Regions from separate parts of the Homo sapiens genome. Here all the other regions are linked to region 1. The links come from fine-mapping of genetic effects on plasma protein levels. A gene starts in region 1. Each other region holds a variant in brackets. All regions are shown on one strand. Distances are from middle to middle. Region 1 holds the start of TP53I3 (tumor protein p53 inducible protein 3). Region 2 overlaps FAM228A (family with sequence similarity 228 member A). Region 3 holds the start of PFN4 (profilin family member 4).

What was found. A credible set is the group of variants that fine-mapping cannot tell apart. PIP is the posterior inclusion probability: the model's chance that the variant is causal. Protein levels are from antibody-based Olink assays in UK Biobank. Linkage for the fine-mapping came from a reference panel and not from the study's own genotypes, which makes the PIPs less certain.
Region 2: its variant is the best candidate, but not a certain one, in a credible set for the plasma level of the TP53I3 protein (UK Biobank, PIP 0.66).
Region 3: its variant is the best candidate, but not a certain one, in a credible set for the plasma level of the TP53I3 protein (UK Biobank, PIP 0.59).

The regions. Positions count from the first base shown.
Region 1 is chr2:24,079,908-24,088,087 of GRCh38, reverse strand. TP53I3 (tumor protein p53 inducible protein 3) reads left to right here and starts at 3,254. Exons shown (of 5, transcript NM_004881.5): 1 at 3,254-3,899; 2 at 4,936-5,203; 3 at 7,057-7,269. The coding sequence starts at 3,762. It also overlaps a transcript of FAM228B not described here. RefSeq lists enhancers at 2,469-2,969, 3,717-3,766, 3,917-4,016, 4,612-5,542 and a silencer at 3,527-3,706.
Region 2 is chr2:24,183,462-24,191,641 of GRCh38, reverse strand. It overlaps FAM228A (family with sequence similarity 228 member A), which reads right to left. Exons shown (of 6, transcript NM_001040710.3): 5 at 7,997-8,147; 6 at 1-1,230. The coding sequence ends at 1,011. Among named protein-coding and RNA genes, the nearest start is that of FAM228A, 12 kb to the right of the region's middle. The variant C/T (reference allele first, on the strand shown) is at 4,736.
Region 3 is chr2:24,115,793-24,123,972 of GRCh38, reverse strand. It overlaps PFN4 (profilin family member 4), which reads left to right and starts at 639. Exons shown (of 5, transcript NM_199346.3): 1 at 639-855; 2 at 1,426-1,554; 3 at 2,673-2,810; 4 at 4,291-4,396. The coding sequence starts at 1,438. It overlaps FAM228B (family with sequence similarity 228 member B), which reads right to left and starts at 504. Exons shown (of 11, transcript NM_001145710.2): 1 at 440-504. RefSeq lists an enhancer at 1-2 and a silencer at 73-572. The variant C/T (reference allele first, on the strand shown) is at 4,311.

The sequences.
Region 1 (8,180 bases):
TGGCCAACATGGAGAAATCCCATTTCTACTAAAACCACAAAAATGGGCCGGACCCAGTGGCTCACGCCTGTAATCCCAGCACTTTGGAAGGCCGAGGCAGGTGGATTGCCTAAGCTCAGGAGTTTGCGACCAGCCTGGACTGTTGCAAAACCCTGGGCTGGTGAAACCCTGTCTCTACTAAAATACAAAAAATTAGCTGGGCGTGGCAGCGTGCATCTATAGTCCCAGCTACTTGAGAGGATTGCAGGGAGCCGAGATCGCCTGGGTGACAGAGTGAGACTCTGTCTCAAAAAAAAAAAAAAAAAAAAAATTACCCTGGTGTGGTGGCTCACACCTGTAGTCCCAGCTACTCGGGAGGCTGAGGCAGGAGAATCGCTTGAACCTAGGAGGTGGAGGTTGCAGTGAACTGAGGTCAGGCCACTGCACTCCAGCCTGGGCAACAGAGTGAGACTCAGTTTCAACAACAACAACAAAAAAGAATTCTTATAGCGTGTAATCTCCAGTCCCTGCTTCCCCTTCCCAGGGTCTTTCTGGTGACCAGCTCATCCTGAAGCTATCTAGGGCCCCCACCCTAAGTCATATTAGCATAAACTCGAGTGTGCTTATAAGGGTTTGTTATTAATATAAAAAGTCACTTCTATCACATACGAAATTCCAAGGGTTTTAGGAGCTCTGCAGGAGAACAAAATATAATAAAAGATACTTATTGGCCAGGCAGAGTGGCTCATGCCTATAATTCCAGTACTTTACAGGCTGAGGTGGGAGAATTGCTTGAGTCCAGGAGTTCATGATCAGCCTGGGCAACGTAGCAAGACCGTATATCTAGTTAAAAACAAAAGAAAGAAAGAGATGTTTATTCAGCAAATAACAAAGGTTTTAGGAGTGCTATTGTAGGAACCCAGGACAAAGACCAAAAATATATATTTCTTATTACACACTGCAAGATTACATCGACCAAGGGCTCACTAAGATAAAATCTTAGGCACTTTCAACTACTAGTTTTACTGGGATACTTTAGTATACTTAGTGGTTGGTATTATTAGATTTTTTTTAAAGTTACTCCTTGCATCTTAAAAGTTCTTATTTAGCACTTACATTACACATTCCTCATCTATCTTAATCCATTCCATTTTCTTAATCCAATCAGTTTTAGTGTCGATTTTTGCAAAGTTTGTTATTTACAACTATTTCCTTTCCATCTGTCTCTGTTCTAGGATATTTATTTGGTTCAAACCTTTCCTCGATTTTGGACAGATGTGTATCCGGATGATGTGTCTCTGAATCCTTATACATCCTCAGACATGTTTTTTGCCCTAACAAGTGAATTATATCTTAATGGGGTATATTGAGTTACAGTGCTTTTCTTCTAGTCAATAGACGCTAGTCTACTCTCTTCTAGCTTCCAGATTGCAGATAGAAACTTGCTGGGCACAGTGGCTCATACTTGTAATCCTAGCACTTTGGGAGGCTGAGGCAGGAGGATTGCTTGAGTCCAGGAGTTTGAGACCAGCCTGGGCAACATAATGAGACCCCTACACTACAAAAAAGAGAGAGAGAGAAAGAGGGGGTGGGGAAGGAGGGAAGGAAGGAAGGAGGGAGGGAGGGAGAGAAGGAAGCCATTTTTTTTAACCAATTGTGAGTAACTTATTCTTTCCACACTTGTTAGAACCTGAAATTTTATAAAATATAGGCATGCATTTTTGTTCTTATGAATCCATCCTTTAGTGAATGTTTTCAATCCGTATAATCTGGTAGAATTTAGGAAAACTGTATTCTTTTATTTGGTTAACTATTGAATCTTCTTCATCCATTCCTCTTCCTCCTTCTAAAATTCCTTTTTTTTTTTTTTTTTTGAGACGGAGTCTCACTCTGTCGTCCAGGCTGGAGTGCAGTGGTGCGATCTCGGCTCACTGCAAGCTCCCCCTCCCGGGTTCACGCCATTCTCCTGCCTCAGCCTCCCGAATAGCTGGGACTACAGGCGCCCGCCACCACGCCCGGCTAATTTTTTGTATTTTTAGTAGAGACGGGGTTTCACCGTGTTAGCCAGGATGGTCTCGATCTCCTGACCTCGTGATCCGCCCGCCTTGGCCTCCCAAAGTTCTGGGATTACAGGCGTGAGCCACCGCGCCCGGCCTAAAATTCCTGTTATTCTCATAGCAGGGTCTCCTGAATTTTTCCTTAAGTCCCATCATTTTATTATTTCCATCTCTATAGGCTTTTGCTCTGTTGTGTTAAAGAAATAATTATTCAATGATACTTGTTAAAGCACATTAAGGAAGACTTTATTTAGCACCATCGCTACAGGTTTAGGGACCACTGCAATGAGTTCTTGCAGTGGAGGAGACAGGTTGGGATCAACTCTGAATGCATCACGGACAAGTGGGAATGTATAGCCAAGGAGCAGTGTAGGGGGTCAGTGGATGGAAAATTGGTAAGAGGCATCAGGGGTAAGGGGGATTCTATCTAAACTGACCTAACAGGATTCTCACTGAAGACAGGCCAGGGTGGTCGGATATCACTTGGGGGATGGTGGAGGATGAGATATTGAGGGTGATCAGATGTCAAGGATGGGAGGTTCTTACTAAAACAGGAATTTACAAGGAGTGCTACGGATATGTAGTGGGGGGAGGCCAGGGATGCTGCTAAACATCCTACGATGCACAGGACGATCTCCTACAATAACGAACTAGCTAGTCCAAAATGTCAATAGCGCCGAGATTGAGAAACCTTCATGTAGCTTACGGATACAGCTTTTACCCAATCGCCAGCATCCTTCTCCTGGGGCTGAACCTCTCCCCCAGGACTGTCAGGAGGAGGCGAGTGATAAGGATCCCAGGACTGCGTTTTGCCTTCCTTCCCCACCCCCACTCCCAACGGCTCCTTTCTCTTCTCTTAGCAGCACCCAGCTTGCCCACCCATGCTCAAGATGGGCGGGATGCCAGCCTGTTACATAAATGTGCCAAAAGCCTGGCCATGCCTGGAAAATGGACCAATCCGCCCGCCAAGAGGTTGGGTCTCGTTCCCTAGAGAGAAGGAAGTTTCCTCTCCTTGAAGTGAGAGCTAGAATCGCACTTTCTGTCAAGCTGAGAGAAAGACTCTTTTCCAGAGGCTAAAAGGACAAGAAAATCTGATTTGCTTGCTTCTAACTTTGCGTTTTAAAGGGGGAAGGAGGAAAGGAAAGAGGGGGAGGGTGGTTCTGCTTAGCCCCACCCCTCCGGCTACCCCAGGTCCAGCCGTCCATTCCGGTGGAGGCAGAGGCAGTCCTGGGGCTCTGGGGCTCGGGCTTTGTCACCGGGACCCGCAGGAGCCAGAACCACTCGGCGCCGCCTGGTGCATGGGAGGGGAGCCGGGCCAGGAGTAAGTAACTCATACGGGCGCCGGGGACCCGGGTCGGGCTGGGGGCTTCCAACTCAGAGGGAGTGTGATTTGCCTGATCCTCTTCGGCGTTGTCCTGCTCTGCCGCATCCAGCCCTGTACCGCCATCCCACTTCCCGCCGTTCCCATCTGTGTTCCGGGTGGGATCGGTCTGGAGGCGGCCGAGGACTTCCCAGGCAGGAGCTCGGGGCGGAGGCCGGGTCCGCGGCAGACCAGGGCAGCGAGGCGCTGGCCGGCAGGGGGCGCTGCGGTGCCAGCCTGAGGCTGGGCTGCTCCGCGAGGATACAGCGGCCCCTGCCCTGTCCTGTCCTGCCCTGCCCTGTCCTGTCCTGCCCTGCCCTGCCCTGTCCTGTCCTGCCCTGCCCTGCCCTGTGTCCTCAGACAATATGTTAGCCGTGCACTTTGACAAGCCGGGAGGACCGGAAAACCTCTACGTGAAGGAGGTGGCCAAGCCGAGCCCGGGGGAGGGTGAAGTCCTCCTGAAGGTGGCGGCCAGCGCCCTGAACCGGGCGGACTTAATGCAGGTACCCAGGGCTCAGCCGCGCCGGGGCGGGCGGGACTCCAGAGCCTCCCTCTCAACAGCACTCAGTGGACATTGACCAGACGTGAAGGCGTGCACCGCTCCACACCCAGCAGGCAGCTGCGCTGGGGCTTCCCAGACCTAAACCCAGGGCGCCCTCTTTGTTCATGCAAAACAAGGGGGAGTACTTGTAAAGCAGAATCCACCCCGAGCTAATCCATAGCCACTCAGGCCTCCAGATGAGGGCGGAACTAACATTGTTGTGGGGTGTGGGCACACTTACTCCCCAGGCTACCCTGTTCGCCATCTTAATTCTACAGATAAGGAAACTGAAGTTCAGTGAGGTTAAGCAGTACGCCCAAGGCCGTGACACTAGCAATCAGAAGAGCTGGGATTCAAGCTGAGGTCTTTGTGGCTCCAAAGACCTCTTAACTCTTTCCACTCTGAGAGTCCCGGAGCTGACAGCGGGCAGTACTCTTAAGAATTTTCTTCTGTCTGATGCTGATTTACTGACCTGGGCCAGCTGCATTGGTTGGGGTCATTCAGAAATGTGCATCAGAATCCCCCGGGGCACAAAAGAAACGTGATGGGGGCCCAGGCACGTGTACTTTGAAATACTCCTCAGGTGGTTCTGCCACACACTCCTGGTTAAGTCCCTCTGCTCTACAGCTTCTGAGGACTGGGGTGAGTGAGCACAGAGCCTAGCGCTTGATGCATGGGAACCATCGTCAAGGTTCCTAATCCCACTACTATTATTTCCCGTCTGGGACTCAGTTTCTCCATCTGTAAAGCAAGGGGTTCAGATGAGGTAAATAGCTAAGGACTCTACCAGTTATAACATCCACTGATCATGTGACCTCCAGTTTATTTGCATAAAACTAATGGCCTCTCCTTTTTCTTCTCCTTACTTACAAAAACCTGACTTCATTCTGAAATTTATTTTTGAAAAAAAAAAGAGGGGATCTTGGAAGGGGGGCCAGGGGTAGTGACATACAGATTTCTGATCATGCTCACCACTTAGTGCACTTCTTTCTCTGCAGAGACAAGGCCAGTATGACCCACCTCCAGGAGCCAGCAACATTTTGGGACTTGAGGCATCTGGACATGTGGCAGAGCTGGGGCCTGGCTGCCAGGGACACTGGAAGATCGGGGACACAGCCATGGCTCTGCTCCCCGGTGGGGGCCAGGCTCAGTACGTCACTGTCCCCGAAGGGCTCCTCATGCCTATCCCAGAGGGATTGACCCTGACCCAGGCTGCAGCCATCCCAGAGGCCTGGCTCACCGCCTTCCAGCTGTTACATCTTGTGGGTGAGGAGGCCTCCATGCTCACTCCACACAATGTGGCTCAACACCTTCATAAATCAGCCAACTTGAATCCCAGCAATCCCCCAGGGCACTCCCAGGCCTTCCTGTATCACCTGTATTGTCAGGTCCTCAAACCATGTTAGAAGGGTTTAATGTTGAGGCTGAGAATCATGGTTAGCAGATAGAGGGTCTGGATAACACTAGATAGGAGGCCTATGTACATGTTAACACCGGACGCCCAGCAGAAGTCCCAGCTTCTTAGAATCATACTGAGCTTCTCTCTGGGGTCCCAGTGCAACAGAAGGGACCAATTGACTCATTTATTCCTCCTCAATCCCACAGAGGCCAGTCAAGAACTCACATAAGGGAATCTAAGAAGACTTGGTCCTTGCCTTTAGACAGTGCAGTGTAACTGAGAAGGCAACATATGCATAAGATCAGATGACCATAGAGTTTAGAAGGATAGCCCTGTCTATGATAGAAGCTGGAGATGAGTAAAGATGGTGTGGACAAGGGTAGTCAGAAGGCTTTTTGGAAGGCTTTGAAGGGTGGGTAGACTTGTGAAGGACATAAGGCATGCCAAGGTGGCCTAAGAAAGAGTATCAGCCAGGCAAGGTGGCTCACACCTATAATCGTAGCACTTTGGAAGACAGATCACGAGCCCAGGAGTTCAAGATCAGCCTGGGCAACATGGCGAAACCCTGTTTCTACAAAAAATACAAAAATTAACCAGGCATGATGGTGCATGCCTGTTGTCTCAGTTACTCAGGAGGCTGAGTTGGGAGGATCACCTGAGCCCAGGAAGGTCAAGGCTGCAGTGAGCCATGATCATGCCACTGCACTCCAGCCTGGGCAGTAGAGTGAGACTCTGTCTCAAAGAAAAAGAAAGAGTAGGCTGGGCGTGGTGGCTCACGCCTGTAATCCCAGCACTTTGGGCGGCTGAGGTGGGTGGATCATGAGGTCAGGAGATCGAGACCATCCTGGCTAACACGGTGAAACTTCATCTCTACTAAAAATACAAAAAATTAGCTGGGCGTGGTGGTGGGCACCTGTAGTCCCAGCTACTCAGGAAGCTGAGGCAAGAGAATGGCATGAACGCAGGGGGGGTGGGGCAGAGCTTGCAGTGAGCCAAGATTGCGCCACTGCACTCCAGCCTGGGTGACAGAGTGAGACTCCGTCTCAAAAAAAAAAAAAAAACAGTATCAAGGTGAGACCAGCCACTGCACTCAGTAGTGAAGGATGACTATTGTGATTTGTGAAAAATGAGGCTGGAGCCAGATCATGGTGTCCTTGAATATCAAGCTGTCTGGACTCAATGCAAAAGCCAATGGAGAAGCACTTTACATTTTGAGGAGGAAGTAACATAATGCAAGTGCCATCTTAGGAAGAGGAGCCTGGTGGCTGTGTGTTGCCTGGATCAGGAAGACCAGCTGGAGGCCAGTTTCAGACTCTAGAAGGACTGGCTTTCGGTGGTGACCATGGGAATGGTAGTTGTTCTTACTTATTCAGGTGTAGGTCAGAGATGTGCATTTTGGTGTTATAGGTAAAATAGAGATTATGGATGTGGCTGCTTATAGCCCTGTTTCAAAAGGCTGTTTTCCACTTTAGCCAGAGGCAATAAGACAGAAAAGGTCGTCAATATGCTCTTTTTCTTTCTCCAAAGAACAAGATGGTTTGTATTTGAGTCACAGCGTCCCACCCCCACCAGCCCACCCCCACCCCACCAAATAAAAAAGGAAAAGCAAAAGATTGATTTGGCATTTGGTGCAACGGCCAGGTGATCTTGATAGAATATGCCTGTGTGGGGAATGTGTAGCAGTTGCAAAGTAAAGAGAACCCTGTACTTTCTGTCACAGGAAATGTTCAGGCTGGAGACTATGTGCTAATCCATGCAGGACTGAGTGGTGTGGGCACAGCTGCTATCCAACTCACCCGGATGGCTGGAGCTATTCCTCTGGTCACAGCTGGCTCCCAGAAGAAGCTTCAAATGGCAGAAAAGCTTGGAGCAGCTGCTGGATTCAATTACAAAAAAGAGGATTTCTCTGAAGCAACGCTGAAATTCACCAAAGGTAAACAACTGCTTCTACAGTTCAGCAGGAATTTAAGAGATGATTAAATAAAAGCCCCACCAGTCTCAAAGTTGCCAGTGCTGTGTATCAGTCTTACCTCTGCTAAGTGCACAACAGCTGCCCTGGCCAAATTCTAGTACTATGGTATTTGACCACTGGAGACAGGCAGTCATATTTAAATCTAAGATGGTTTCCATGTGCATTCTTGCAAGAGATAAGATTCATCCACACTTTAGACCATGCAGACTTGGTCTGGAATTATCCAGCACCTTTTCTTCCCAACCAGCCATTCCACACTTAGTTAACAGGAGGCTTGGAGGCAGAGACCAGTTTGGAGCCAGCCATGGTAGGGTTGGGTGGTAGCACCCTAAATGAGTAAGTAGATGTGCACACCTCTGTATTCCAAAGCCAGACGTGTCTATTTTTGGCTCATCCCTTTCCGTTTCTCTTTCTTTTTTTTTTTTGAGATGGAGTCTCACTCTGTCACTGAGGATGGCGTGCAGTGGCTTGATCTCGGCTCGCTGCAACCTCCGCCTCCCAGGTTCAAGTGATTCTCCAGCCTTAGCCTCCTGAGTAGCTGAGATCACAGGCGCACCACCACGCCCAGCTAATTTTTGTATTTTTAGTAGAGACGGGCTTTCACTATGTTGGCCAGGCTGGTCTCGAACTCCTGACCTCAGGTGATCCACCTGCCTCAGCCTCCCAAAGTACTGGGATTACAGGCATGAGCCACCATGCCTGGCCTCCATTTTTTATGTGAGTAGAAAAGGAGAGATGAAACCAAAGCTAGAAAGCCTATGATTCCAATAACCTAGTGCGGACACTTCCTAACTTCTATGTGAACAACTAGCCTAGGTTGGGCCTCCTGTATTCTGTTCTCAATCGTGCCTGGGTGTCAGTGGGACTGTACT
Region 2 (8,180 bases), 100 kb before region 1:
TCACCACACACACGAAAACAGTAAATGTGAGCTGGTGGGTATGTCAACAAGCTTGACTGTGGCAAACATTTCACAATGAATACCTATAGCAAATCATCACGTTGTACATCTTGAATATTTGAAAAATACATGGAATGAGGAGCTCCCTGTGCTCTCAGATATAATTATGCTCAGAGGAAACTGCTGAAGAGTCACAGGTAACTTACCACAGACGGAGAATCCCTTACTCCCTGGAGAGACCGGGGACAGCGATGGGACTGAGCAGGAGCTGGGTCACAAAATACCTATCCAGGCTCACAGGCTGGAAAGCAGCAGCAGTCCCCCATCCTGTGTGTGTGGTGGTGAGGGTGGGAGTGACGCTGTCAGGTCCTGAGCTGAGCGGTGGCCCACCAAGCCCCCTAGGCCTTCCCTGGGAGGGTCCTGCGCCTCAGGCCTCAGGGCACAGGGCGTGGCGGAGAGAATGGAAGGGGAAATAGACCAGGAGCTGAAAACTGTGTCAAATGAACCATGAGCTCTGGATAAGAAATCCATACTCAGAAAATTCCTACATATAAAAATACCTTTTAAATATCAAAAAATCTCATCTTGCCCTAATTTTTTGGTATAAATTTCATTTCAAAAACTTCCCACCAGTTGTGTGTGGACTAAGGAGAACACCATCTTTGGTGCAGTTTGGATGGAGTAAGTGGAAAATGGTAGGAAAGTGGCAGAAGGGCAAAGGCCCGGGCGAAGGCGCTGAAGAAATCTCAGGGGGAAAAGCCCCTGTGGCCAGGTTGGCCCTCACCTCGGAAGGACAGGATGTCTCCGGAAAGTGGGGTCCAGGTCCCACATTTACCACTTGTCTGAGTTTCTTCATGCAAGGCTTCCCCGCCCGAGGGGCCCTGTCAGAGCTGCAGTGCTGAGCCTGAGGCCACCGCCATTTCTCCCTCCTCCTCTTCACACCCTTCTTCTTGGGCCATGCCTCCTCCGCCCTTGGGTGCCTGTCTGACAGGGAGGGCTGTGGCGGTGGCTCATTCTGGAACCAGTATGTGCTGCTCGTGGGTGCTGCAAAGCCCTGCATGCCAGCCCCGCCCCAGGCCTCTGCTCACCAGACCCTTTCTTTCACCCACTTTGTTCTTCTGGCTGAGCTTTGAGGAAAGGAACTGCCTTTCAAACGCAGCCTGACTTAGGTCGGCCGTCTTTTTCTCTTTTCTTTTCTGTTTCTTGTCTGCATAGATGAGCTTTTCAGGACTGTGAAGAAAAGCAGAAAAAATTGTCTCGATTCAGCACAGATGGAATTGTACCATCAAATAGTTTCCGAAGATTAATGCAATGAACTCAATCGTCACTTTTGAGAAGGAACGACTGACCAGCCATCACTGGTGGCTGTCCCTCAATCTGCCTGCCCTGTCCGTACCTCTGCTGGCCCAATTCCTAGGGAGGTGGTGACTTGGGGACCCTTCCCCAGCCATGGCTGAGGCACCAGGTCCAGAGCTTCAATCCCTATGGCTGTAGTTGGGACAAAGGGGCTTCCAGGCAGCCTCTGAGTGCTCAAACCAGAAAGTCAGGCAGAACGGCGCCTCCACTTGCCAGCACTCACAGGAAAGCACAGAAAGCCCATGTGCAAAGAAAGAGAAACAGAGCAGGTTCACGAAGAGAAGTAATGGTGAGTGCCACATAGCCCCAAAGAGGCAGGGACCAGCCTCCCAGTCAGTCCCCCGAGCGCCTGGCTCCAGCCTCCCAGTCCGTCCCCCGAGCAGCCTGGCTCCCTTCCTGGCTTGGCTTCCATGACATACCAATGCTCTCTAACATATCGAGCCCCCTCCCGCCTTTCCTTTGAGAAGGATTCTGGCTTTTGTCATCAAACTGTCTCTGCCTCACCTCGCCACGTGCTCTCAAGTCCTTTTCTTACTTCATCAAATAGCCACACGAGGCATCCTCTGGGTGTGTCCTCCCGGAGGAATTTCACCAGGGCTGCCACCATTTCTGCCCCAGGAAGCCTAGCCCTATTGAGGGAAATAAGCCTTCTCTTTTCTTCCTCCATTAATTCATTCAACAACCACTTATTCATGATCTACTATGCTCCAGCTAAGTGCTGGGACCACCAAGATAGTAAGATGCAGTCCCTGCCCTCAAGGGGCTTGCTGATGGAGGAAAGGGCCAGTAAGGGGCTGGAGAGTTCTGTGTCCCTGTGATAACTGCCCTCTTGCCTGCACTGGAATGGCCAGTGACAGACAGAGGGAGCAAAGGCAGGCAACAGCCTGGCAGGTCAGGGAGTTAAGAATGTGCTGACTTGACCCAGAGGTTTTCATGGTTAATCAATCTTCCTTTTATTTAAGTTGATGGGACTTCTGTGATGAGGCCGGAAAGGGTGGTAGGGCCCAGATGGTGCCTCATGTGCCATGTTGAGGGCCTGGGCTTTGTCATAAGGGGAATGGCACTGAAGGGTTTCCAGTGGAGGAGTGCTGATCACTTTAAAAAGACCACTCTGGCTGCTGGGCGAAAAATGGATTGGAGGAGACCAGCCTGAAGGAAGAATACCAGCGGAGGAGCCAGAGGGGAGATGACGCCAACAAAGCAACATGAAGCCTTTGTCTTGTTGTGGGGGTGGGGGGGCTATGTAATTACTGGTGTTTAAATAAAAATGTTTGTTAAAATGATAAAGGAACCATAAAACCAGAAATAATACATAAAACTTCCAAATCACTAGGGTAAGCATAAACAAAGTAGCACTGTTTATTCCAACAAAACTCAGGATGGGGAATGAAAACAAAATATTGAGAGTGTATAACAGACCTCCTGTTTGTGTAGAATATAGAAGTCTGCACAGGCTAAAAGTCCTGCTGAAATAAATAGAGAAGAAAAAGCAGAAAATTTACTACCAAAATTAAGAATTTTAAAATCACTGGACAGCTTTAAAAAGAATTCCAGAGAGGCGAGAGCCTTCAGGAATGAGTTGACAATCTCCAACTCTTACCTTCCTCTGTGGGAGCATTTCAAGTACCAGGTCACCAATATTAAGTACCAAGGTAGAGACTGATTTCTCTGTGCTTCTAGCATCTTTGGTGGATTTTTGTCTTTGGGTCTGGTTGATGTCCTGACAGGTGGGTATTTAACCTTGTTCTCAACATCACCCTCCCGCTAAGAGGCAAGTCAAGCAATGTGCTTGGTTTCTCAATGGAGGACAGAAACTCTCCAGGCCCCGAGTACAGACAGCATTTCCCAAAACCTATTTGAAAAAGAATCAAGGAGGGGTGGGGAGGGGGAAGGGAGAGCATTAGGAAAAATAGCTAATGCATGCTGGGCTTAATACTTAGATGATGGGTTGATCACCTAGGCAAACATTTACCTGTGTAACAAACCTGCACAATCTGCACATGTATGCCAGCTCTAAAAATAAAAATTAAAAAAATCAAATAGAAATTCTAGATCTATAACTGAAAATAATAATTCAAAGGATGGGTTTAACAACAAACAGACACAACAGAAGAGATAATAAAATATCTGGAACCAAACATGGAAAGACAAAAAGGATAGAAAATATACAAAAATGATCAGAGACAGGGGATCAGTGAGAAAATCTAAAATATGTTTAACTGGAGTACCCAAAAGAGAGGAGAGGAGAATATGGCAGAGGGAACAAAGAGAAAATAACTGAAAACTTCCTAGAACTAACTAAAGACAACCTACAGATTCAAGAAGACCCATGAATTCCAAGTAGGATAAATAAAAAGAAATCCACATCTAGAAACATCACATAAAACTACAAAAAATCAAAGACAATGAGAAAATCATAAAAGCATCCAGGGGAAAAGACAGATTACCTTCAAAGGAACAACAGTAAGACTAGCAAGTGACTTCTCAATTGAAAGAGTAAAAGACAACAAGATATATGTTGAAAGAAAATAACTGCCAACCTAACATTCTTAATCCTGAAAACATCCTTTAAGAATGAAGGTGAAGTCCGAAAAGGCTAAATGTTGTATGATTCCAACCATATGACATTCTGTAAAAGGCAAAACAATGGATACAGCTAAAAAAAAAATCACTGGTTGCTAGGGGTTAGTGGGGAAGAGAGATGAATGGGCAGAGACAATTTTTAGGACAGTGAAACTATTCTGTGTGACACTGGAACAGAATGATGGATACATGTCATTGTACATTTGTCAAAACGCATAGAATGTACAACATCAAGAGTGAACCCTAATGTAAACTATGAACTTTGGGTGATAATGTCAATGTAGTTTGTACCACTGTGGTGCAGGATGTCAACAGTGGAGGAGGTTGTGTTTGTTGGGGGACAGGAGGTGTACGAGAACTCTCTAGGTACTTTCCACTCACGTCTGCTGTGAACATAAAATTTGTTACGAAAAATAAAGTTAAGTTGAAAAAAGGAGGGAAATAAAGATGTCTTAAAGCAAACAGATTTTTCATGAGCAGATGCACATTTATGAAAACTGTAAACAATATTTCTGTTGTTTATTTGTTGTGAGGTACATGGTAGAGTATAAATGACATGACATGAGACCTAGAATTTTCCCACAAAACTGTGAGCACAAAAGGGAAAGTGGGGTAAAGTGAGAGAGAGAGAGAAAGGCAAAATGTTGATGGCTGCTGAACCTGGGTGATAGGTACATAGGAATGTGTTGCACTCTCTACATTCAGTGCATTTGAAAATGTTTGTAATAAAATATTTTAAAAATGAGTCAGTGTAATTTTCCACAGGCGGGGCACAGAGGCTCACATCTGTAAATCC[C/T]CCAGTACTCTGGGAAGCCAAGGTGAGCGGATCACTTGAGGTCAGGAGTTTGAGACCAGCCTGACCAACGTGAAACCCCTTCTCTACTAAAAATATAAAAATTAGCCAGGTGTGGTGGTGGGCGCCTATAATCCCAGCTACTCAGGAGGCTGAGGCAGGAGAATCACTTGAACTTGAGAGGCAGAGGGTGCAGTGAGCCAAGATCATGCCATTGCACTCCAGCCTGGGTAACAGAGCAAGACTATGTCTCAAAAAATAAAATAAAATAAAATAAAAATGTCCACATTAACAAAGGAGAAAAAATTAAATATCAATAAATGCATAAAAATTAATATATGTCAAAATCTATTATCTAAAAAAAACTGATAGCAAACTAAGAAAATGAACTTCCTTAACTTACTAATGGAAATCTAAAAATAATGTAAAACACAAAAAACACCAAAAGCTTTCCCTTTGAGTTTAAGAAGAATACAATGAAGCCAATTTTCACCACTTCAACTTTGTGCCAGAGATCTTAACTGGTACTGTAAGGTAAGGAAAAGAAATAAAAGGTATAAGGAATGGAAAACAAGAAATAAAATTCTCTTTATTAGAAGATAATATTGTGGGCTGGGCAGAGTGGCTCACACCTGTAATCCCAGTACTTTGGGAGGCCGAGGCAGGTGGATCACCTGAGGTCAGGAGTTCGAGACCAGCCTGGCCAACATGGTGAAACCTCATCTCTACTAAAAATACAAAAATTAGCCGGGTGTGGTGGTGCACACCTGTAATCCCAGCTACTCAGGAGGTTGAGGCGGAGGTTGTAGTGAGCCAAGATTATGCCACTGCACTCCAGCCTGGGTGACAGAGCGAGACTCCATCTCAAAAAAATAAAAAGAATATTGTGTACATAGAAAATCCAAAAGACTCTATAGATGAAATGTCAGAATTCATAATAAAGTTTAGCAAGGTTGCCAAATACAAATTCAACATATGAAATCGTTTTTATTTCTATACATTACAATTACCTAGAAAATGAAATTATATATAATAATAAAATAGGAATAAGTAAGAATAAATCTAAACAAAGATCTACAAGACCTTTAGACAGTTTCTTATCCATAGTACTTACTGACATTTGGGGCTGAGTAATTCTTTGTTGTAGGATATTTGGCTGCATCCCTGCCCTATGTCCAGTAGATGCCTGTAGAACCCCATGCCCCTGACAACCAGAAATGTCTCCAAACATTGCCAGCTTCTTAATCAATTTGATTAAGAACCACTCCTTTACATAAAATAAGACCCACACTAATGGAGAGATATATACCATGTTCATGGATTAGAGGACTCAAAATTGTAAAGATGTCAATTCTCCCCAAATTGATCTACAGATTCAATGCAATCCCAATCAAAATCCCAAGTATTAGGTTGGTGTAAAAGTAATTGTGGTTTTTGCCATTACTTTTTTATTTGTTTGTATGTGTGTATGTCTACATGAAACTTGAGCTAATTATAAAATATATTGGTGTATTTGTTCTATCAGGTATCAAAACTCATTAAAAAGCTATAGTAAACAAATAGGCTAGGATAGAGAACCTGGAAATTAAGTATACATAACAGCAGTGAATTTGTATAAAAGTCTACACTGCAGAACAGCAGGGAAATGATATTTTCAATAAATGGTACTGAGGAAAATGGGTATCATTAAAGGGAAAAAATTCAATTGGGCCCCACATAAAATACATACAAAAAGCAATTCTAACTGTATTATAAGCCTAAATTTGAAAAGCAAAACTATAAAAGCAGGCCAGGCACGGTGGCTCACACCTGTAATCCCAGCACTTTGGGAGGCCAAGGCAGGTGGATCACCTGAGGTCAAGAGATCAAGACCATCCTGGCCAACATGGTGAAACGCCATCTCTACTAAAGATACAAAAATCAGCTGGGTGTGGTGGCGCACACCTGTAGTCCCAGCTACTCAGGAGGCTGAGGCAGGAGAATCACTTGAACCCGGGAGGCAGAGGTTGCAGTGAGCCAAGATTGTGCCACTGTACTCCAGCCTGACGATAGAATGAGACTCCATCTCAAAAAAAAAAAAAAAGGCCATACAGCTTTTGGAAAAGACATCTTAAAATAATGTATAAAAAGCACTAGTTATAAATATTTGACTATATCAAAATTAAGAGATTGCACCACTGCATTCCAGCCTGGACGACAGAGCGAGACTCAGACTCAAAAATAAATAAATAAATAAATAACAAATGTGGATTGTGGAAACGAAAATACCAAACTGGATTGTTCATAATAGCCAAAATATGGAAACAACCCAAATGTCCACAACAGTGGATTGCTTAAATGATGGCATAGTCAAATATAATGGAATATAATCAGAAAACAGAAGTTAATACACTGGAGCTATATGCAACAACAGAAAGGAATCTGAAAAACATAATGGTGAGCAAAAGCAGTCACACAATGAACTGTACATGTACAAACCCTCAACAGATGAATTTTATGGTATGTAAGCTGTATCTTTTTTTTTTTTTTTTTGACAGTGTCTCACTCTGTTGCCCAGGCTGGAGTGCAGTGGCATGATCTCGACTCACTGCAACTTCTGCTTCCCGAGTTCAAGCGATTCTCCTGCCTCAGTCTCCCGAGTAGCTGGGATTATAGGCATCTGCCATGATGCCCAGCTAATTTTTGTATTTTTAGTAGAGATGGAGTTTCACCATGTTGGCCAGGCTAGTCTCAAACTCCTGACCTCAGGTGGTCCACCTGCCTCGGCCTCCCAAAGTGCTGGGATTACAGGTGTGAGCCACCGTGCCCGGCCTGTAAACTATATCTTAATAAAGATGTTTTTTAAAGAGTCAGTCATAAAAGAATAAATGCTTTCAGGTTCTGTTTATATGAAATTCAAAAATACGCAAGATAAACTATATTGTTTAAGGATACAAAGTTAGTTGATAACACCACAGGGAGAGCAAGGAGGTGAACACTTATAAAGTGAAGGGAGCTCTGGGGCAGGGAGAAGACTGTCTCGGGAGGGGGCAGGCTCCCTTTCTTGAAATGGCTGGTGATTCCACAGGACTGACTCAGGGACTCGGTAAGCTGTTTATGTTTTATTCTGTCCTCTACATATATTTCATAATACAAAGGTGATGATAATAATAATAAAACTATAAACTACTAAAAGACAAAAGTGTGACTAGTTACAAGAGCTTCAGTAGGAAATAAAGTAAGTTGCAAGTTAAACAAATATTTGTTTGTTCTGCTCATCTGTACCTGTATTTGTAAGTTTTACTCCTGGCTCTTGCAGAGGCTTTATGCCACTCTTTTGGAATCACACAGTGTGAAGTGAAAGTGAAGTAGGGCGAGCTGGCATGCAGCCTGGCCTTCTCTATTTCTTCAAGTTCTTTTATGGAATGTCGTTTTCCTACAGGAAGATAAAAAATCGAAATCAACACTC
Region 3 (8,180 bases), 36 kb before region 1:
GCCACAGAAACACAGGCTGAGCTGCTTAGAGAAGGCAGGGAGGGGCTTTCGGTCATACTGCGCGAGTCTTCGAGCTCTGAGCGGCTCGAAGTCCTCCCCGAGGCACGGGTGCGACGGGGATGTCGTAGGCGTCCGCACCCGCTCTCGCTCATCGCGCCCACTCCCGGCCCTTCCTCCCACCCACTAGGCCGGGCGCCTGCGGCCTCCACGCCAGCCCCGGGCCGGGGGCCTCCCGCGCAGGCGCGTCGTGCGCGGGGACCGCCCGGCCTGGCGGGGAGGTCGCCGGCCGCGACAGGCACCTCTCTGCCCTCCCAAGGCCAGCAGGCCCGCGGCCGTCCTGCTACACACTCGGGCCCGGCCCGACGACCCCGGAGCCGTCCGACTGCGGCTGGAAGGGAGCCCGCCCGCGTCTGCGGAACGCGCGAATGTTGGCGCCCACCGTCTCCCGGACGCAGCGCCGCGCGAGCACTCCGCCCCCTGCGCCGCGGGTTCCACAGCGAGTCCGCGCGGGCGGTGCCGGGGCGGCGGAGGACGGCTTCAGGCCCAAAGGGGATTGGGCGGCGGCTCTAGGTGGCGGGTCTTGGTTTGCGGAAGGGGCTGGAGTCGCTGCTTCTCGGTGACCGGCGCGTGGCCCGGCCAATCCTGCCGCCGCCACCCACCCGCAACCGCGTCCGTTGACGGTCGGGTCCTTGGTCGCCGGGTCCTTGCGGGCACCACAGAGCGGGGTGGCGTCCGCTCCCTCGAGTCCTCGGTGCCAGGGAATTCACCGCTCACCACCCCCTGCCCCGCCTTGGGTCCTGCTCGGGGACCAAACCACTGGAAGGCAGTGGCGGGAAACGGGCGCCTGTGCCGGAGGTCCTGATGAGGGGGGTCCAAGGCTTGGGGACTTGTGCGGGAAATGTGGGTTTAAGTGCCTTCAAGGTGTTTTTAGTCCATTGGGATGTTGATCAGCGTTCATAGCTGGCGCTGATGCAGGTCACCGGGAAGGGAATGTGTGGGTTTATGGCCACGCATAATCTCTTTTAGTCGTGTTTAACTTAGCAGGGTAGCTCTCCATCCTGGCTGGGTTTTGTTTTTTGTTTTTATTTTTTATTTTACAGAGTTTTTCTCAGTGTGTAATGTTTGTTTTTAAATCGCAGATAATCCTGATGTAAACCATTGACATAGCCAGAAAATCACCAGGCTGTGATTTTCCAAACTCAGCTTCATAACCTATTCTGTGTGAGCTGTGATTTTTCTATGATTCTGTTTTCCTCTTTGGGTACTGGTGGGCCCTGAATGATGGACCACCGTTTTCACCCTGTACCTTTTCAAAGTACACTTGCTGATCTTAGAACTGTCTGCAGTGTCTTAAGGACATTTGTATTCACATGCCTTTTAAAAGCTAGCCAGAGTCAATGGCTTCAACTGCACTTTCCCTTTCAGAGTTGAGGGAACATGAGCCATTTGCAGAGCTTATTGTTAGACACCCTCTTGGGAACCAAGCATGTGGACAGTGCAGCCCTCATCAAAATCCAGGAGCGGAGCTTGTGTGTAGCATCACCAGGTTTCAATGTAAGAAAAAACAAGTTTGGACCTAAGACTTGATTTACTTATTATTTCTATTCTTCCAAAAAATGAAGCAGACATGACTTTTTTTTTTTTTTGAGACGGAATTTCACTCTTGTTGCTTAGCCTGGGATGCAATGGCATGATCTCAGCTCACTGCAACCTCCGCCTCTCAAGCGATTCTTGAGCCTTAGCCTCCCGAGTAGCTGGGATTACAGGAGTGCGCTACCAGGCCCGGCTAATTTTTGTATTTTTAGTAGAGATGGTGTTTTACCATGTTGGTCAGGCTAGTCTCAAACTCCTAACCTCAGGTGATCCACCTGCCTCGGCCTCCCAAAGTGCTGGGATTACAGGCATGAGCCACCGTGCCCAGCCCAGACATGACTTTTAAATGAACTTTTTCTGTAAAGAGCTACATAAATATTTTAGGTTTCTAGGCTTAGTCTTTTTACTGTTGATATAAAGGAATACCTGAAGCTGGGTAATTTATAAAGAAAAGAGGTTTATTTGGCTCACAGTTCTACTGCCTGGAAGACTGGTCATCTGTGAAAGCCTCAGGCTGCTTCCACTCATGGCAGAGGTGAAGGGGAGCCAGCATGTGCAGAGATCACAGTGGGGGAGAGGAAGCAAGAGAGAGCAAGTGGAGAGGTGCCAGGCTCTTTCTAAGAGCCAGCTCTCCTGGAACAAATACAGTGAAAACTCACAGCTTCCCCCAGCTCGCAGGGAGGGCATCAGTCTATTCATGATCCAAATACCTCCCATTAGGCCCCACCGAAAACGCTGGGAATCAGATTTCAACATGAGATTCAAACTATAGCACAGGGCCGTAGAGTCTCTGTCACAACCACTCAACTCTGCAATTGTAGAGGAAAAACAGCCATACATAAAAGAATGAATGTGACTGTGTTCCAATAAAATTTTATATTTATGGATACTGAAGTTTGAATTTCATATAATTTGTAAGTGTCACGAAGTGTTATTCTTTTGATTTTTTTTCCCCAACCATTTAAAAACATGAAAACCATTCTTAGCTTGCAGGCCATAAAAAACAGGTAGTGGGCTAAATTTGGCTGGCCACCAGCCATAGTTGGCTGACTCCTGCTCTAACCATGTAACCTCTCCAGGTAACGCCCAGTGATGTCCGAACACTGGTGAATGGATTTGCCAAGAACCCTTTGCAAGCCCGAAGAGAAGGACTGTATTTCAAGGGAAAAGATTACAGATGTGTCCGGGCAGATGAATATTCTCTTTATGCCAAAAATGTGAGTGCTCAAGATTTGAAGAGAGCTGAGTAAAAGAAAAGAATTTGCCTCCAAATTTCCTTGCTCTGCCTGATCCTTTCTGTAAAACAGATTAAATCCATTAATGTCTTGAGCCATTGTCTTGAGATAGCAGTCTAGTGCCAGGAAGACATATGTGAAAGAAAGTCCTATCAAGAGCCTGGTTTTGAGAAATGTTCATTCCAGAATCTATTAACTGAGCCTTGCCTGAACTCTTTCCAATACAGTCCCACCTTCATACTCTACATCCTCCTTTAAAAAAAAAAAAAAAAGAGATAATCATTTCTGTGCTTAAAACATTTCTCAGTGGCCAGGCACAGTGGCTCACACCTGTAATCCCAGCACTTTGGGAGGCTGAGGTCAGGAGTTCAAGACCAGCCTAGCTAACATGGTGAAACCCTGTTTCTACTAAAAATACAAGAAAATTAGCCAGGTGTGGTGCGCCCTTGTAATCCCAGCTACTTGGGAGGCTGAGGCAGGAGAATTTCTTGAATCCAGAAGGCAGAGGTTGCAGTGAGCCGAGATCGTGCCATTGCACTCCGGCTTGGGCAACAAGAGCGAAATTCCATCTCAAAAAAAAAATTTTAAAAAAAATCAGCTCTCTGTTGCTTATAAGGAATGAAAGAGATGAAAATCATTCATTGGATGCCCTATATTATGGGTTAGGCATGCTGCTTCATCCACATTATAAACTAAATAATCTCATTTTACAGATGAGGACACTGAGGCTTAACAAGGTTAAATAACCCTTACTCATGCAGCAGAAAAGGAGGCACTAGAATTCAAGCCCAGAGCTGTCCAATTCCAAAATGTACGACCTTTCCATTACATCAGTTTTGTTTTGTTTTGTTTTGTTTTGTTGTTGTTTTTTTTTTTGAGACGAGTTTCACTTTTGTCGCCCAGGCTGGAGTGCAATGGCACGATCTCGGCTCACTGCAACCTCCACCTCCTGGGTTCAAGAGATTCTCCTGCCTCAGCTTACCGAGTAGCTGGGGTTACAGGCGCCTGCCACCACGCCTGGCTAATTTTTGTATTTTTAGTAGAGATGGGGTTTCACCATGTTGGCCAGGCTGGTCTCAAACTTCCAACCTCAGGTGATCTTTCTGCCTTGGCCTCCCAAAGTGCTGGGATTACAGGCGGGAGCCACTGCACCCGGCCTACATCAGTTGTTCTAATTGGGATGGGGTATATGATAATCAATTGCAGAACTTTTTCAAAATCCATCTACCATTATTATAACAGTCTGAAACTTTTTGAGGAAAGGCAACTAAATTGGTGGAAAAGAGTGGACAGTCCAAAAACAGATATATAAACATATGGAAAATATATACGGAATATGTATATTCCATATATATTCCAAACATATGGAAATCAGGAAATGGTGAAAAACGTAGCTGGAGCATGACCACTGGTCCTGTGATTAGAACCAAGAGCAGAATATTCTCTTATATTCTTTATACAGGAGAACACTGGTGTGGTTGT[C/T]GTGAAGACCCATCTGTATCTTCTGGTAGCAACTTACACTGAGGGCATGTATCCTAGCATCTGTGTGGAAGCCACAGAGAGCCTGGGTAAGTTGGCCTCCTAGTTCCTGTCTTCATTCCCTATGTTAGTTGGGTCTTCCGACTACGAGTAACAGAGATCCAACTCAAACCAGCTAGGGCAGAAAGGAGGAATTTATTGGAAGGATGCTGAGGTTATTTACATAGCCACTGGAAGGACAGGGTGCAGCTGAGCCATGGGGAAGGTAGATTCAGGGACTGGAACACTGCTAGGATTCTGTCTTGACTTCTAAATGAGTCAGCTTTGTTCTGTCTCATAGCAAACTGTTTCCTTTCCTGGCTGATATCATGGCCAAGCCTCCCATAATACCCCTTAATTTCTCTTAGGACCCTGATTTGGCAAGTTTCAGGTCATATGGTTTACCCCTGTATCAGTCAGCTATGTAGGTGGGGCAGGATAGGGGAGGGGGGAGACAGCAGGGTAAAAAGGCAGAGATGTGGCTGCTGGGGGTCTACCCTATATAAAGAGACATTTTACAGGAAAAGGAATTACTGTGAGTCAGGCAGCCACTTTGTTGGTATATACTGCATTCCCCCTCCGTGTCTATACATTTTTGAATAAAGATCTCATAGAGAACTAGCTTGGGTATTATATCGGTGAGAGTTGAGCTTAATAAATGGTAAATTGTGTTTGTGTTTAGATTTTTCAAAATCTAAATTTAAATTTTAAAAAGTTTACTGGAGTTGCATAAACACTCCTTTGAAACAGAAGCCTCTAGTAACAAAAGCAGCCACTCATTCATTCATTCATTCATTCAACAAACATTCAGAGGTACTTACCATGTGCCCTGCACTATCCTAGATAAATTAGGGAAGCAGAGCTGGTTAAGATATAGCTTCTGCCTTCCATGCCTCTGTACATGCTGTTCTATCTGCCTAAAATATTTTCTGTTTCCTTCCTGTCCCTCACATCTATTCTGCAAATTCCTAATCATCATTAAAGAACCAAGTCAGATCTCAGGCTTCTATCCATTGTGGTATGTATTTTATGCATACCTTTATGATTATCCCCATTACAGTTCTTTGTTTATCTAGATTGTGAATCCCTGGAAGGCATTTGTCTTGTCTTAATCCTTCTTTTTCTCCATTACCTAACACAGTGTCTGATGTTGGGTAGGCAATTAGTACATGTTTGATGAATAAATCAATGAATTACTTCGGCCTAGCAGAGTCAGGGAAGGCGCCAGAGAGCTGAATCTTAAAGGGCCAATTGAGAAATTAAGTTTATCACAGAAACTATATACCTATGTACAGATATGCCTCATTTTATTGCATTTTGCATTATTGGACCCTTCCTGAACAGATGTCAGGATTTGAAGGAGGCTCCATTTCAGAATTGTAGGGCAGGAGCAGAGAGCAGAACAGAGACATAGAGAGCCAGGTTAATTATCTAATTAAAATAACCAGAATATGAGATTAGAAAGATGGGCAATTTGGCTGTCAGGAAGCCAGGCTCTTACCCTGTCAGCTAGGGCTCAGGGCTAATTCCCCAGAGGAGACCAGATAAATTGCCTGACTACTGTAATGTAGGTCATGTGGCTGGCACTAAAGGTTAGTATTCTTGCTTAGGGCCACAAAAAACTCCACAGACTCCAAAGAATGTGCCCTGGTTAGAAGTGCACTGCTGGCATCACGCCATTAATATCCCACTGCTCTGGGAAGGGACAGCTATCTTGGAAATGGTCGTATGATCAGGAAGGATGGACAAGGCTGATATCCACTCAGGAGCCAGTTGTCTTATGACTGACTTTTGTTTCCTTTACTCCTTTTTAAAAAAATATTTTTCTCTATCTAAAAAATTATACGTGATCATTGTAGAAAATTTGGGAAGTAAAGAATTACAGGCCAGATGGGGTGGCTCACACCTGTAATCTCAGCACTTTGGGAGGCCGAGGCAGGTGTATCACTTGAGGTCAGGAGTTCAGGACCAGCCTGGCCAACATGGCAAAATCCTGTCTTTACTAAAAATACAAAAATTAGCTGGGTGTGGTGGTGGGTACCTGTAATCCCTGCTGCTCAGGAGGCTGAGGCAGGAGAATCACCTGAACCCAGGAGGTGGAGGTTGCAGTGAGCCAAAATAGCGCCATTGCACTCCAGCCTGGGCGTCACAGCGAGACTCTGTCTCGAGAAAAAAAAAAAAAGAAGAAGAAGAACTATGACCATTTAAAAATTGTATTATGAAAGATTCTAGGGGCATGAATATTAATTAAAGAAAACCTTTAAATAGACAGGAAAAGGATGCTATGCTACTTCTGTCACACAAATTAATCAGGTTTGTGCAGTGGCTCACGCCTGTAATCCCACCACTTTGGGAGGCCAAGGTGGGTAGATCATTTGACGACAGGAGTTTGAGACCAGCCTGGAAAACATGGTGAAACCCCATTTCTACCAAAAATACATAAATTAGACCAGGTGTGGTGGTAGGTACCTGTAATCCCAGCTACTTGGGAGGCTGAAACAGGAGAATCACTTGAACGGAGAGGCAGAGGTTGCGGTGAGCCGAGATCGTGCCACTGCACTCCAGCCTGGATGACAGAGCGAGACTCTGTCTCAAAAAAAAAAAAAAAAAAATGCAGGATTGTTTTTAAAATAAATATATTAGAGAGTCACATTTGTAACATTGGTAAAATGTTAGCATCTTTAATTCTAGGTCCTTAGTTGTTTTTTGTTTATTTTGTGTTTCTGTTTTTCTTTTTCTTTTTTTTTTTTGAGACACAGTTTCATTCTATCAGCCAGGCTAAAGTGCAGTGGTGTGATATTGGCTCCCTGCAACTTCCAGGTTCAAGAGATTCAAGATTCAGCCTCCCAGGTTCAAGAGATTCTCCTGCCTCAGCCTCCCAAGTAGCTGGGACTACAGGTGCCTGCCACCACACAGGCTAATGTTTGTATTTTTAGTAGAGACGGGGTTTCACCATGTTAGCCAGGCTGGTCTCGAACTCCTGACTTCAAGTGATCTGCCCGCCTCAGCCTCCCAAAGTGCTGGGATTATAGGCGTGAGCCACTGCACCCGGCCAGGTCCTCAGGTTGAAAAAAGAATCTTAAGCATACGTTGTGACTTATTCTGCAAGACTCTGTATAAAAAAAAATGAAGTGCTACCTGGCATGGTGGAGTGCACCTGTAGCCCTAGCTACTCAAGAGGCTGAGGCAGGAGGATCAACTGAGCCCAGGAGTTTGAGCCCAGTGTGGGCAACATAGTGAGACCCCATCTTTAAAACGTGAGTACATCAAGTGCTGTAATCAGGTTTTGTTTTGTTTTGGAGACAGAATTTCGCTCTGTCGCTCAGGCTGGAGTGCTGTGGTGGGATGTCAGCTCATTGCAACCTCTGCCTCCCGGGTTCAAGCAATTCTCCTGCCTCAGCCTCCCAAGTAGCTGGGACTACAGGAGCATGCCACCATGCCTGGCTAATTTTTTGTATTTTTAGTAGAGATGAATTTTCACCATGTTAGCCAGGATGGTCTCGATCTCCTGACCTCATGATCAACCCACCTCGGCCTCCCAAAGTGCTGGGATTACAGATATGAGCCACCACACTTGGCCGTAATCAGTTTTAAGTCTAGGTCATAGAATACATATAGGAGAGGAGGGCAGCAGTTTCTTTTATTCTCCTGAGCCCTCTCTCACCCTGTTCCCTTTGCCCAGCCATATGCATTATTCATCCTTTTTTTTTTTTTTTTTTGCATGGGAACCCAATTCATACTCCAGGACAACTCAAATACCTCTACTATGGCACTTATTACCATGAAATAGAATTGATGTTTGTGTGTGCCTATATCCCCTACTAGACAGTGAAC